Linked DNA regions of Homo sapiens. The protein of the gene in region 1 purifies or fractionates together with the protein of each later gene. This does not show direct contact. Each region holds a gene or a part of one and is shown in the gene's direction. Other genes may lie near its edges.

Region 1 (2,260 bases):
GGTGTCGACAGCTGCACGGTCCACCCCACGCCTGCCTTTCCATCGTTCCTCATCAGCCCTGTGATCTTTCCTGTGGCCCTGCTGTGCTGGTGCCCTGTGAGGTCCTGTGGACACAAGAGACTGCACGGGCCACACCCCCAGCTGGGTGAGTCCTCTCCCTCCTGGGTACTCTGGACAGTAAAGAAAGATGGACACGTGGGCTCCGTGGAGCATGAGGTAGTCCAGGACCTCGGCGGCCACAGGTCCTGCCTCCCTGCTTCTCGTGCCCTCCCTCCCTTTGGGTCTCTGCTCCACCTCGGTAAACGCTTCGTTCCCACCCCTCGAAGGGTAAATCGAGCTCCTTGGTGGTAAAGCACCCACTGCCCCTAGTCAGAGGGTCCCTCCTCTCTGATGTCATGGTGCCCTGGTCTGCCTGGTAGAATTTTAGCTGCTTTATAACCTGGTCCTGAAATGAACCACTGGGAAGAAATAGGGTAAAATGAACACACAGCTGCCACACTGCATCCCAACCCTGTGTGACCCTATCACCGCAGACTTTTGTGGCAAGATGACAGCATCTCAGTTTGCTTGAGAAGCTTATTTTTGCCAAGGCTGTTACCACCAGGCAGGCACCAGAGCTCGGTTCCACTCACAGCAGAACACAAGCAGTGGCCCTGTGGATTCCCCTGTAAGAATGTCCGGAGGGAATGCTTCCCCCTCGCCAGGATCAGACTCTTGGCACTCTCTGTGATACGTGAGACCTTGAGGAAGGTTCCTCCGTTCCCAGAAGCGGAGCAATGTGCTGGTGCTGAGAAGTGGCCCCTCAGGGCCACCCTGGGCAGGGTCTCCGGTTTTATTCCCCCGTACCTTCTGCTTCATCACGCAGATCCTATCCTGGGTTTGGGTGGGGAAGTCTCTCTGCGGGGGCCGGTGGGGCAGCATCTCCAGGCTGGGAGGCAGAGCTGGTTCTGCCACGATGTGTCCTCCCCGTGAGGACCCACTCCCACGCCTGTCCCTGCCACAGTGGGCCTCCTGATGGTCCTCCTTCCTCCAGGTCACCGGCACGATTGCTGTGGCCCCTCCTCTGTGGGTGTGGGCTTGGACGCCTCTCCCCTCCACCTGCACACCCCTTGCAGCACACATGAGGCTTAGCTATTAAAGAGGCTGGAGGACAGTGCAGCGCTTTAACCCTGGCCCTCACAGGGAGGTGTCTAGGTCTTTCTTCTCCCCTCCAGATGGAAGCATTTGGGTAGAGGACCTAGAAGAGGCTAACACTCCCTGAACTATGAACCTAGATTGGTTTCTAAATCTGCTGAGAGAAAAATTGAACTTGAAGTGACATTCCTTCTAAAGTAGACATCATCCTACATGGCTCTTCTACAGCTGTCTTTCACCCTAACCCATGGTGTGCCCTGGGCTGTCGCAGGCCCCCAGCCCCTGCCCAGCCTTTCTGAAGTGCCAGGCTTGGGGCTCAATGAATGAGCCTTGTTCTAAAGCAGAAAACAGTTCTGTTCCAGTCAGGGTTCAGCTGCCTGCGTCTTGATGAGATCTCTGTTCAGGATTGTGTCCCCTGCTTCTCTCTCCCTTCTCCTTTTCAAGATCACAGGTGAAGACAAGGGGGTGGAAAGTTCTACCTAGATTGCTGCTATCTTAAGAATGTGGACTTTGGAGCCAGATTGTCTGGGTTTAGTCCCTGCGTCTGCTGCTTACTAGGTGTGTGACTTTGGGCAAATACCTTGACCTCTCTGTGCGTCCGTTTTCTTGGCTGTGAAATGATGTATCATCTCAGAGCACCCATCCCCTGGGGTTGTGTGGGGAGTAAGTAAGCCGGTCTAGTATGGCGCCTGGTACATCCTCAGTCAATAATATCAATGTTGGCTGTGGTGAGGACGTAGCAGAGGATGGTAGAAAGAATCTGAGGCTTGGGGTCCAGAGCCCTGGGTTCAGGTCCCAGCTCTGCCACTTGCTGGTGTAGTGATGCGGATTCTGCACCCCGGAATGTGGCAGTGTTTGCATGCAGGCTGGCTGTGAAGACCCAGGGCAGCAGGCCGGCAGGCTGGTTCCCCTGCACACCGGACTAACTCTGTCCTCTCTCTCCACAGGCACACATTCTGGCAGTTCCGCCATGAGAACCCCCAGACCCGGGTTGGGGGCCCGCCCCCCGAGGGGCTGCCGGGCTTCAACAGCGGGGTGATGTTGCTGAACCTGGAGGCCATGCGCCAGTCCCCGCTCTACAGCCGCCTGCTGGAGCCGGCGCAGGTGCAGCAGCTGGCCGACAAGT
Region 2 (3,572 bases), on another chromosome or scaffold:
AAGCTGGCCCTTTTCCATCCAGCACATATTTTTCAGGGGTTACAAAGCCCTATTTTACAGGGGTGCCAAATGTGAAAAAGCACCGTCCCCGTCCTCAAGCAACTAAGGCTGTAAAAGATGGAGGCAAAGCCACACTGAGAGAGGACCAAAGCTGCATGCTAGGACAGGGCTGGGGAAGGCCAGAAAAGCCTTGGTCGTGAGGTTGGCATTATGTGGGCTGCAGAGGGTGCTCCGGGTTCTGATGGCTGGAAATGTGCAAGGAAGGTATTCCAGGAGGGAACTGCATGAACAGGGACTTGGAGGCAGGATTGTCTGGGGCTTGTGGAAGGTGCCATAAATAATTCAGTTGAGCTGGAGTTGGGTGCTCGTGCAGGCATGATGGAGAACGGGATTGGAGAGTCGGGGGTTGGTGGGTATCAAAAGTTGGTTGGTGGAGTTTACCCTTTGGCTGGGCAGGTGCGCTGTTGCAGATGTGATGGGGATTAAGATTGGAAGCGTGTTGACATCACCTGAGCTAGTCACCTGTCTTTGGTGGAGGCTGAGTGCGGATGGTGGGCAAGAGACGGTAGAAGAGGCAGATTATGTGGGGGAGGCTGCATCAGACCCTCCTATGCCCCCTTCTTCTGGAATAAACCACATTCTTTGTGCTTCTCTTTGAAACCACTTTTCAATGTTGCAGCCTTTTTTGTGGATTCCCCTGGCATCTCCCTGTGCCTTCTTTCAGATTAAGACGATTTCCAGTTCCTGGGGGACCTGGATAGAGAAGCCTGACCTGTGTGCTGGGTGGCTGAGGGACACAGATGGCGTGGTGGAAGGGTGCATACGGTCAACCTGGAGGGAGGCCAGCTCCCACACAGGGTGTTAGGACCCGTCAGAATATGCGCCTGTCACTGAAACGGACCACCGGTGGCTGACCCTCTCGCTCCTCTTGCACAGCTGTATCCAGCATGCTCCAAGGCCACAGCTCTGTGTTCCAGGCCTTGCTGGGGACCTTCTTCACCTGGGGGATGACAGCAGCTGGGGCAGCTCTCGTGTTCGTATTCTCTAGTGGACAGGTGAGTTGCCTTGCTTTGGTTCTGGATGTTGGTGGGGAGCCCGTTGGTAAAGGGGCACTGTCCCACTCCATGGAGCAGGTTTGTAGACTTTTCAGTGCCCCTGGCCACACCCCCAGGCATTGTGTACTGGGGTTTGTTCGCTGTCTTCTTATTTTCTCACCTTCTCCCTGCCAGGCCGGGAGAACAGATGTCTGCTTGCTGTAGACACCTTCATGCACCATCATCTCCCCTCTTGACCCTTGACAGCCTGACTTGAAGGGAATAGGAAGTGAGAAGCCCAGTTATTGAGGCTTCGTTAGCCCGCTGCCTAATTTCTACCTGCCATGTAATTTCTTTTCTTTTTTCTTTTTTCTTTTTTTTTTTGAGACAGAATCTTGCTCTGTTGCCCAGCCTGGCGTGCAGTGGCAGGATCTCAGCTCTCTGCAACCTCCACCTCCCGGGTTCAAGTGATTCTCCTGCCTCAGCCTCCAGAGTAGCTGGGATTACAGGCATGTGCCACCACGCCTGGCTAATTTTTGTATTTTTAGTAGAGGTGGGATTTCACCACTGGTCTCAAACTCCTGACCTCAGATGATCCACCCACCTCGGCCTCCCACAGTGCTGGGATTGCAGGTGTGAGCCACCGTGCCTGGCCTGCCATGTAATTTCTTTCAGGCCTGGAGCAAGTGGTACTATGCGTGACCGAAGAACATTAGATTTCAGGTGTAACTGTCCTCCCCTGTGGACTTGAGTTGGGTGGGATGGTTGGAAAGACCTTGGGAGAAGAAGGGGCATCTGTTCCCTTTTTTTTCAACCCATCTCCAGGTTGTTTCCTTTCCCCTTGGGATGAATATAGACAGACCCATGTCCCTGGCCCCCTGCAAACTCTTACTTCTTTCTCCTACATCTTCCTTGTATCCTACTCCCAGTGCCCTCACTCACTGTCATGGCCCCACAGCCTATCTCTCCCTCCTCCCACAACCCCATCCTTACACCCCTTCTACACGCTCTACCTATAGTCCCACATACCCACACTTGCACACATACCCATACCCATATGCCCTCCCCACACCTCTGCACAACCCACACTCACCTCATATACCTGAAATTGCATTCTTTTCTCCAACCCAGATCACCCTCAGTCCGCAGCCCTGGAGCCATCCATGGGTATCTTGATGAATGCACAATCCCTGCATCGATCACCTCGGTAGCCTGAGACATTGTAGAAACGGCAAATGAATAAGTGACTTAAGATCTAGTTCAACATGTTGTGAGGGAGATCTGGAAATGAAAACACCTTTAGGAAGTTCACAAGTCAGGCACTCTTGTGTTAGAGACCAGTACAGCAGGCCTTGATTTCAACAATAAAATCCCGACCTCCCTTGCTGCGCTGCACTGCCCCCGGGAGCTGATGGGTTGGAGACTGGAAATCAGAAAACACACAATCCAGAAACATGGTTTATCTGGAACCTAGGTATATAAGATGCCAAGATAAGTCAAATTCACAGAGACACATTGTAGAATGGTGATTGCCAGGGGCCACAGAGGAGGGCAGAAATAAGTTATTCTTGAATGAGTACAGAGTTTCAGGGTTTTTTGTTTTTGTTTGTTTTTTTTTTCTTTAGACAGAGTCTTGCTCTGTCACCCAGGCTGGAGTGCAGTGGCGTGATCTTGGTTCACTGCAACCTCTGCTTCCCAGGTTCAAAAGGTTCTTCTGCCTCAGCCTCCCGAGTAGCTGGGATTACATGCATACACCACCACGCTCAGCTAATTTTTTTTGTAGTTTTAGTAGAGACGGGGTTTCGCTGGTAACCCCATCCGGCCAGGCTGTTTTATTTATTTATTTTTTATTTTTTTTGAGCTAGAGTCTTGCCCTGTCACCCAGGCTGGGGTTCAGTGGCATGATCTCAGCTCACTGCAACCTCCACCTCCTGGGTTCAAGTGATCGTCCCACCTCAGCCTCCCAAGTAGCTGAGACTACGGGTGTGCACCACCATGCCCAGCTAATTTTTGTATTTGTAGTGGAGATGGGGTTTCACTATGTTGCTCAGGCAGGTTTTGAGCTCCTGACCTCAAGTGATCTGCCTGCCTCGGCCTCCCAGACTGCTGGGATTACAGGTGTGCACCATCATGCCCAGCTGAGTTTTAATTTTGTAAGGTGAAAAGTTCTGTAGACCACATGGCTTCTTTCACTTCAAAGAATGTCCATAGAGCTCATCCACGTTATAACATGTGCCAGAATTTCTTTTGTTTTTAAGGCTGAAGACTATTCCATTGTATGTACATACCACATTTTGTTTATCCATTCATCTATGGATAGATAGCAAAAAAAAAAAAATCTGTATTGAAATAGAAGATGCTTATGGAAAAATGCACATTTTATTAGGCTGGTGCATTTTATTAGGTTTGCACCAACCTAATATAAGTATGCAGCTTGATAACTTTCCACAAGTGCTCATGAAACTAGAGCCCAGATCAAGAAACAAAACAGTACCAGCTCCTCACCTCACAGCCCCTTCCAATCAGGAGCCTTCAGTC
Region 3 (3,572 bases), on another chromosome or scaffold:
GTTCAAGCAATTTTCTTGCCTCAGCCTCCCAAGTAGCTGGGACTACAGGTGCGCGCCACCACACCCAGCTAATTTTTGTATTATTAGTAGAGACGGGGTTTCACCATGTTGACCAGGATAGTCTCAATCTCTTGACCTCGTGATCCACCTGCCTTGGCCTCCCAAAGTGCCGGGATTACAGGTGTGAGCCACCGCGCCCGGCAGGATTTTTTATTTTTTAATTTCTTAAGTTTTTATGTATTTGCTTATTTTTGGTGGGTTTCTTCAGACTAGAGTATTCTTCTTTTTTTTTTTTTTTTTTTTAGAGATGGGATCTTGCTTTGTTTCCCAGGCTGAACTGCAGTGGTGTGGTGTGGTTATGGCCTTTTTTTTTTTTTTTTGAGACAGTCTTGCTCTGTTGCCCAGGTTGGAGTGCAGTGGCACGTTCTCGGCTCACTGCAACCTCTCCCTCGCCGGCTTAAGCAGCTCTCATGTCTCAGCCTCCCGAGTAGCTGGGACCATAGGCGTGCGCCACTTCACCCAGCTAATTTTTGTATTTTCTTTTTAGTAGAGATGGGCTTTTGCCATACTGGCCGGGCTCTTCTTGGAGTTCTGGCCCCACGTGATCCGCCCACCTCGACCTCCCAAAGTGCCGGGATTACAGGTATTAGCCACCACGCCCAGCCTGCTCATGGTTTACTGCAGCCTCAAACTCCTGGCCTCAGGGGATCCTCTGGCCTCAGCTTTCCCCATAGCTGGGACTACAGGTGTGTGCCACCAAACTCAGCTAATTAAAAAAATTTTTGGTTTTTTTGAGACAGAGTCTCACTTTGTCACCCAGGCTGGAGTACAGCGGTGTGATAATGGCTCACTGCAACCTCCAGCTCCCAGTTTCAAATGATCCTCCTGCCTCAGCCTCCCAAGTAGCTGGGATTACAGGTACCCGCCACCACACCCGGTTAATTTTTGTATTTTTAGTAGAGATGGGGCTTCACCATGTTGGCCAGGCTGGTCTCAAACTCCTAACCTCAAGTGACCCACTCTCCTTGGCCTCCCAAAGTGCTGGGATTGCAGGCGTGAGCCACCGCACCCAGATGAAAAATACATATATATATATATATATATAAAATAAATAATAAAATATATATATTAAAAAATATATATGAAAATATATATATTTGAGACAGAATCTCGCTCTGTTGCCAGGCTGGAGTACAGTGGCTCAATCTCAGCTCATTGCAACCTCCACCTCCCAGGTTTAAGCAATTCTCCTCCCTTAGCCTCCTGAATAGCTAGGATTACAAGTGCATACCACCATGCCCAGCTAATTTTTGTATTTTTAGTAGAGACAGGGTTTCACCATGTTGGCCAGGATGGTCTCGATCTTTTGACCTCGTGATCCACCTGCCTCGGCCTTCCAAAGTGTTGAGATTACAGGTGTGAGCCACTGTGCCCTGCGACTTTTTAAATTGTAAATAATTACTCAAGAGTTGAAAATGGCTTGGGAGAAGGGTTGGGCAGGGAACTGCAGAGCTACATGTACACAATTTAAATATCAAAAATATTTACTTGACAGTTTTTGGCTGAGTGCGGTGGCTCACTCCTATAATTCCAGCACTTTGGGAGGCCGAGATGGATCACTTGAGGTCAGGAGTTGGAGACCAGCCTGGCCGACGTGGTGAAACCTTGTCTTTACTAAAAATACAAAAATTAGCTGGACGTGTTGGCGCACACTTGCAATCCCAGCTACTCAGGAGGCTGAGGCAGGAGAATTGCTTGAACCCAGGAGGTGGAGGTTGCAGTGAGCCAAGATTGCACCATTGCACTCCAGCCTGGGTGACAGAGGGAGACTCCCTCTCAAAAAAAAAAAAAAATTACTTGACAGTTTTACAGTTTTTTAACTTTGACAGTTTTTTTTTTTTTTTCTTTTTGAGACAGGGTCTCACACTGTTATCCAGGCTGTAGTGCAATGGTGTGCTCACGGCTCACCACAGCCTTGCCTCTGGAATAGCCGGGACCACAGGTGCATGCCACCATGCCCAGCTAATTTTTGTATTTTTTTGTAGAGACAAGGTTCTGCCAGATTGCCCAGGATGGTTTTGAACTCCTGAGCTCAAGTGATCCGCCTGCCTCGGCCTCCCAAAGTGCTGGGATTACAGGCGTGAGCCCACTGCACTGGCCTGAGAAATTTTTTTTTGAGACGGAGTTTCACTCTTCTTGCCCAGGCTGGAGTGCAATAGCGCAATCTTGGCTCACTGCAACCTCCATCTCCTGGGTTCAAGTGATTCTCCTGCCTCAGCCTCCCAAGGAGCTGGGATTACAGGCGCCCGCCACCACGCCTGGCTAATTTTTTGTACTTTTATTAGAGATGGGGTTTCAAGATGTTGGCCAGGCTGGTTTCAAGCTCCTGACCTCAGGTGATCTGCTCACCTCGGCCTCCCAAAGTGCTGGGATTAAAGGCGTGATTGATTTTTTTTTTTTTTTTTTTTTTGAGATGGAGTCTCATTCTGTCACCAGGCTGGAGTGTAGTGGCATGGCACGATCTCGGCTCACTGCAACTTCCGCTTCCCGGGTTCAAGCGATTTCCTCTGCCTCAGCCTGCTGAGTAGCTGGGACTATAGGCGCAAGCCACCATGCCCAGCCAATTTTTTGCATTTTTTAGTAGAGATGGGGTTTCACCATGTTGGCCAGGATGGTCTCGATCTCCTGACCTTGTGATCTGCCTGCCTCGGCCTCCCAAAGTGCTGAGATTACAGGCGTGAGCCACTGCGCCTGCCCTGATAAAATTTTTTAAAAGAAAATTATCTTGTTTTGTCTTGCAAATGCTGTAATTTTCTGGATATAGACATTCAAAAGTGTTTTCTGCTTCTGTTTTTAGCCTTCCTAATGATGGTGATGAAAAATATGAGAAGACCATAATTAAAAGTGGAGATCAGACGTTTTACAAATTCATGAAGCGAATTGCTGCTTGTCAGGAGCAGATTTTGAGGTAAAAAAAGGCACAGTTCCTTTTATTGTTTTCCTTGATTATAAAGGAATACATATTAGTTTGGAAAACACAGGAAAATATGAGAAAAGCAAAACCTACAGTATTCCCCAAACCAAGAGAGAACCTAATACCTGCTTTATAGGACCTAATACCTACTTTATAGGATGTGTAGGAGGATTCAGTAAGGTAAAGTGCACTCACTTGTCTAACAAATACTTACGAAGTCTATTCTGCATGCCAGTTGCTGGTATTTGTAGGTGCTGCAGATATAGCAAGAAACGGCACAGATGAAGTCCATGTTCTCATAGCCTTTATTATTATTATTATTTAATTTTTTTTTTTCTTTGAGAGGGAGTCGCGCTCTGTCGCCCAGGCTGGAGTGTAGTGGCGTGATCTTGGCTCAATGCAACCTCCACCTCTTGGGTTTAAGCCATTCTCCTGCCTCAGCCTCCCAAGTAGCTGGGATTACAGGTGCCCGCCACCCTGCCCAGCTGATTTTTTTGTATTTTAGTAGAGATGGGGTTTCACCATGTTGGCCAGACTGGTCTCGAACTGCTGGCCTCACGTAATCTGCCCACCTCAGCCTCCCAAAGTTCTGAGATAC
Region 4 (3,572 bases), on another chromosome or scaffold:
AGTAGAGCCTAGCACAAAGTAAGTGTTGAATAAATATAAGCATAAATTATCTAATGATTAACCTGAACTCCATAAAGTTTGTAGAACTATCTGACTGGTAATCTTTATTATGTCCACTATTGGTGAACATGTCATATGAGATAGTTTTATATCATTTTCTTAATATAGAGGAATAGGTCAGATATAAAAGCTAAAGCCAAATATACACATTAACATATATACGTACACAAAAATTGTTATATTTTGTTGAATGGATTGCACCTTGGGCCACATTATTTCTTCTATTATTTAACTCCTTAATTATGTGTTAAACTGTGAGTCTCACCTTTTTTGCAAAGATGTAGAGAAGGTATCAGTAATGGAATCTTTATATTCTGAAAATAAATATAACAGGTGGTTATGTTTTACTTGTGTTATTTCACTACCATCTTGAAAAGCATTCAGATAATTTTCCTTGAATATGGGGAATTTGTATTTTTTTAAATACGATATTCATTCAGTACTTCAATAGTTTTATGTAGATTTCCTTGGTCATTATATGGAGCCTCATTGTGTCCATGCAGATGCTAAAGCTATTCCTGACACTGTTTGGTGTTATCTTAATATTATTTAAGCAAAGAATGGTGATCAACTACAACTTAGCAATTTGTTACTTTTTAAACAGCTCTTTAAAATAAATGAAAAATTAAATGAGAAGTATTTATAATTAGAAAAGTACATAGATAAAAATTTGGAACCTACAGAATTTAGGAAATCAGCCTTTGCACAGGTAAGTAATTTTTGTGTGTTCACTGTTTCACATGGGTACATTGTTTCCCTTTTACAGCACCAGTGCATCAATGGCCAATGGCTTTGTCATGTGCCTCTACATTTTCCCAGCTATAATTTTCAGTTCCTCAAAATGCCATTCCTGAAGGTTCTGTGTATGTGTTTTCCTTAAATACCATTACATGTACATCCCTTAAGCCTGGTTCTCCATGACTTCAGCCCTGGCATTGGGTAATTCATTAATTCTTGTGAAACCTTGCCTTTAACTGCCTTCCAACCATCCCCAGTGCTCACCTCCAGCACACTTTAGACACATGCCTATTGTGTAATTGTTAGTATAGCTTTTTTCTTCACCCTGATCACAAACTCTTTGAGGGCAGGGACCATATCTTTTTTCTAGATGCCCAGAACCCACCATAGGGCCTCATATTTAGAAGTTCAGTAAAATGCTTCCATTGACCCTTTATGACCACAATAGTTTTACTCACTTTCACAAGGATTTGACACTGTGGTATGTAGTTAGTTCTCGCTTCATTCAAAAATTAATGAAACAGGGCTGGGCGCAGTGGCTTACGCCTGTAATCCCAGCACTTTGGGAGGCTGAGGTAGGTGAGCGCATCACCTGAGGTCAGGAGTTCTAGACCAGCCTGGCCAAAATGGCAAAACCTTGTCTCTACTAAAAATACAAAATTAGCAGGTCATGGTGGCGCATGCCTGTAATCCCAGCTACTTGGGAGGCTGAGGCAGGAGAAATCACTTGAACACGGGAGGCAGAGGTTGCAGTCAACTGGGATTGTACCACTGCACTCTAGCCTGGGCAACAGAGAGAGACTGTCTTAAAAAAAAAATTAATGAAACATAATGCTGCTCTAAAAAATGAATATTGGCTGGGCACAATGGCTCATTCCTGTATTCCCAGCACTTTGGGAGGCTGAGGCGGGTGGATCACCTGAGGTCAGGAGTTCGAGACCAGCCTGGCCAACATGGTGAAACCCCATCTCTACTAAAAATAAAAAATTAGCTGGGCATGGTGGCATGCGCCTGTAGTCCCAGCTATTCGGGAAGCTGAGGCAGGAAAATCTCTTGAACCCAGGAGGCGGAGGTTGCAGTGAGCCAAGCTTGCACCAGTGCACTCCAGCCTGGGAGAATGCAGTGAGCTGAGATCACACCACCGCACTCCAGCCTGGGTGACAGAGTGAGACTCCATCTTAAAAAAAAAAAAAAAAAAAAAGAATATTAACCTTAAATAAAGTTTAAAAAGTGGGAAAACATCACAATAAAAAGAAGTGCTAGTTATACATTGTTTACTTTTCTGCTACACTGTATTCCTTGAATTCTTAACAATTTTTGCCTTTGTTTTACAGGTGAAGCCTTGAAAGGAAAGGTCACAGTTCACAAGAATAAGAAAGATCCACGTTCTCTCACCGTGACCCTCACGTTGAATAATTCAACTCAAACTTATGGTCTCCAGTGAAACAGCCATAAAAGCACACTACCTTGTAGTTTTTAATGTGGGGGTAGAGTGGGTCAGCAGGAGGGAGCTGGTTTTATGTGAGCAGATGGATGGATGATGGACCCTTTCCTAATGAGCCTCCTCAATAAGAGAGAAGTTCTCATTGTGGGAATCTGACATAGTTCAGCTGAGGAAGAGAATCAGCTGATCCTCATGGTCTGCCACGTAATCATTTTCTTAGACGTTTGCTCCACCAGATTTAACCAAATGTAACTCCCACATTGAGTTTATCTATATTGAAAATCATTTACATTGGCCTATATTTGGAAGAGAGATAGTCTTTTGTTTTTAATAAGTTTCTTACTATAAATTTTAAACAAATTGGTTAGTTATTTGGATATTTTATTAAACTAGTAACACAGGTACTACACATTTTATTATGGACTCCTCTGAGGAGGAGTTTTTAATTGTATTTGCTAGAAAATCAGGATGTAATAAAGATTTGTATAAAAAAACTAAAATATGGAAAAGAGCTTCAGCCTTCATATACAAATCATATATGCAGACAGCCTAGTTGATTATCTAGCATACTTAGGGTTCTCATTTTGTAGTTTCTTCCCTCTTTGTGACTATTCCTTAGCCTTATAGATTTCTAGTACTGCCCAGGAAATCTAATTTCAATACATTTATCCTAGGTTTCATGAAAGTTTTTAAAGATTGGGATAAATATGTACTTATTTACTAACGTATTATCTTTTTCAAACCAGATTTATGTGCAAAGGTTAAACATGTAACTGTTACTAAGCAGTCTATAAAGTTGTCATTTACAATTACTGATTCAATTTGAAATGTAGAATAAAATTTTAATAAAATGTATCAACTTATAAAATATTTTAAAAATATTGATATTATAAAAGTTTTCAATAAAATATATCAAACAACATTATAAAATATTTCAACAGGGTATGGTAGCTCATACCTATAATCCCAGCATTTGGGAGGCCAAGGCAGGAAGATCACTTAAGCCCAGGAGTTTGAGAGCAGCCTAGGCAACACAGGTCTGTACAAAAAATTCTTTTAAAAAAATTAGCCAGGCATAGTGGTGCATGCCTGTAGTCCTAACTACTTGGGAAGCTGTGGTGAGCAGATTGCTTGAGTCCAGGAGTTGGAAACTACAGTAAGTCAAGATCGTGCCACTGCACTCCAGCCTGGGTAACAGAGAAAGACTCTGTCTCTAGAAAAGTTAATTAATTAAAAGTAAAAAACAGGGCCAGGCATGGTGGTTCATGCTTATAATCACAACACTTTGGGAGGCCAAGGCAGGAGGATTGTTTAAGGTCAGGAGTTCAAG

Evidence for each region.
Region 2: the proteins of XXYLT1 (region 1) and SLC39A11 purify together in Homo sapiens (co-immunoprecipitation; one large-scale study listed by IntAct). This does not show direct contact.
Region 3: the proteins of XXYLT1 (region 1) and PDCD2L purify together in Homo sapiens (co-immunoprecipitation; 2 studies listed by BioGRID and IntAct, with this or other methods). This does not show direct contact.
Region 4: the proteins of XXYLT1 (region 1) and PRMT3 purify together in Homo sapiens (affinity purification with mass spectrometry; one large-scale study listed by BioGRID and IntAct). This does not show direct contact.

What each region holds. Positions count from the first base shown.
Region 1 is NC_000003.12:195,069,933-195,072,192, reverse strand, and holds part of XXYLT1 (xyloside xylosyltransferase 1), read left to right. Parts: intron 1-2,081; coding exon 2,082-2,260. UniProt on the Homo sapiens protein: Alpha-1,3-xylosyltransferase, which elongates the O-linked xylose-glucose disaccharide attached to EGF-like repeats in the extracellular domain of target proteins by catalyzing the addition of the second xylose.
Region 2 is NC_000017.11:73,086,140-73,089,711, reverse strand, and holds part of SLC39A11 (zinc transporter ZIP11), read left to right. Parts: intron 1-936; 5' UTR 937-947; coding exon 948-1,055; intron 1,056-3,572. UniProt on the Homo sapiens protein: Zinc importer that regulates cytosolic zinc concentrations either via zinc influx from the extracellular compartment or efflux from intracellular organelles such as Golgi apparatus. May transport copper ions as well.
Region 3 is NC_000019.10:34,410,880-34,414,451, forward strand, and holds part of PDCD2L (programmed cell death protein 2-like), read left to right. Parts: intron 1-2,857; coding exon 2,858-2,968; intron 2,969-3,572. UniProt on the Homo sapiens protein: Over-expression suppresses AP1, CREB, NFAT, and NF-kB transcriptional activation, and delays cell cycle progression at S phase.
Region 4 is NC_000011.10:20,506,172-20,509,743, forward strand, and holds the end of PRMT3 (protein arginine N-methyltransferase 3), read left to right. Parts: intron 1-2,132; coding exon 2,133-2,242; 3' UTR 2,243-3,167; downstream 3,168-3,572. UniProt on the Homo sapiens protein: Protein-arginine N-methyltransferase that catalyzes both the monomethylation and asymmetric dimethylation of the guanidino nitrogens of arginine residues in target proteins, and therefore falls into the group of type I methyltransferases.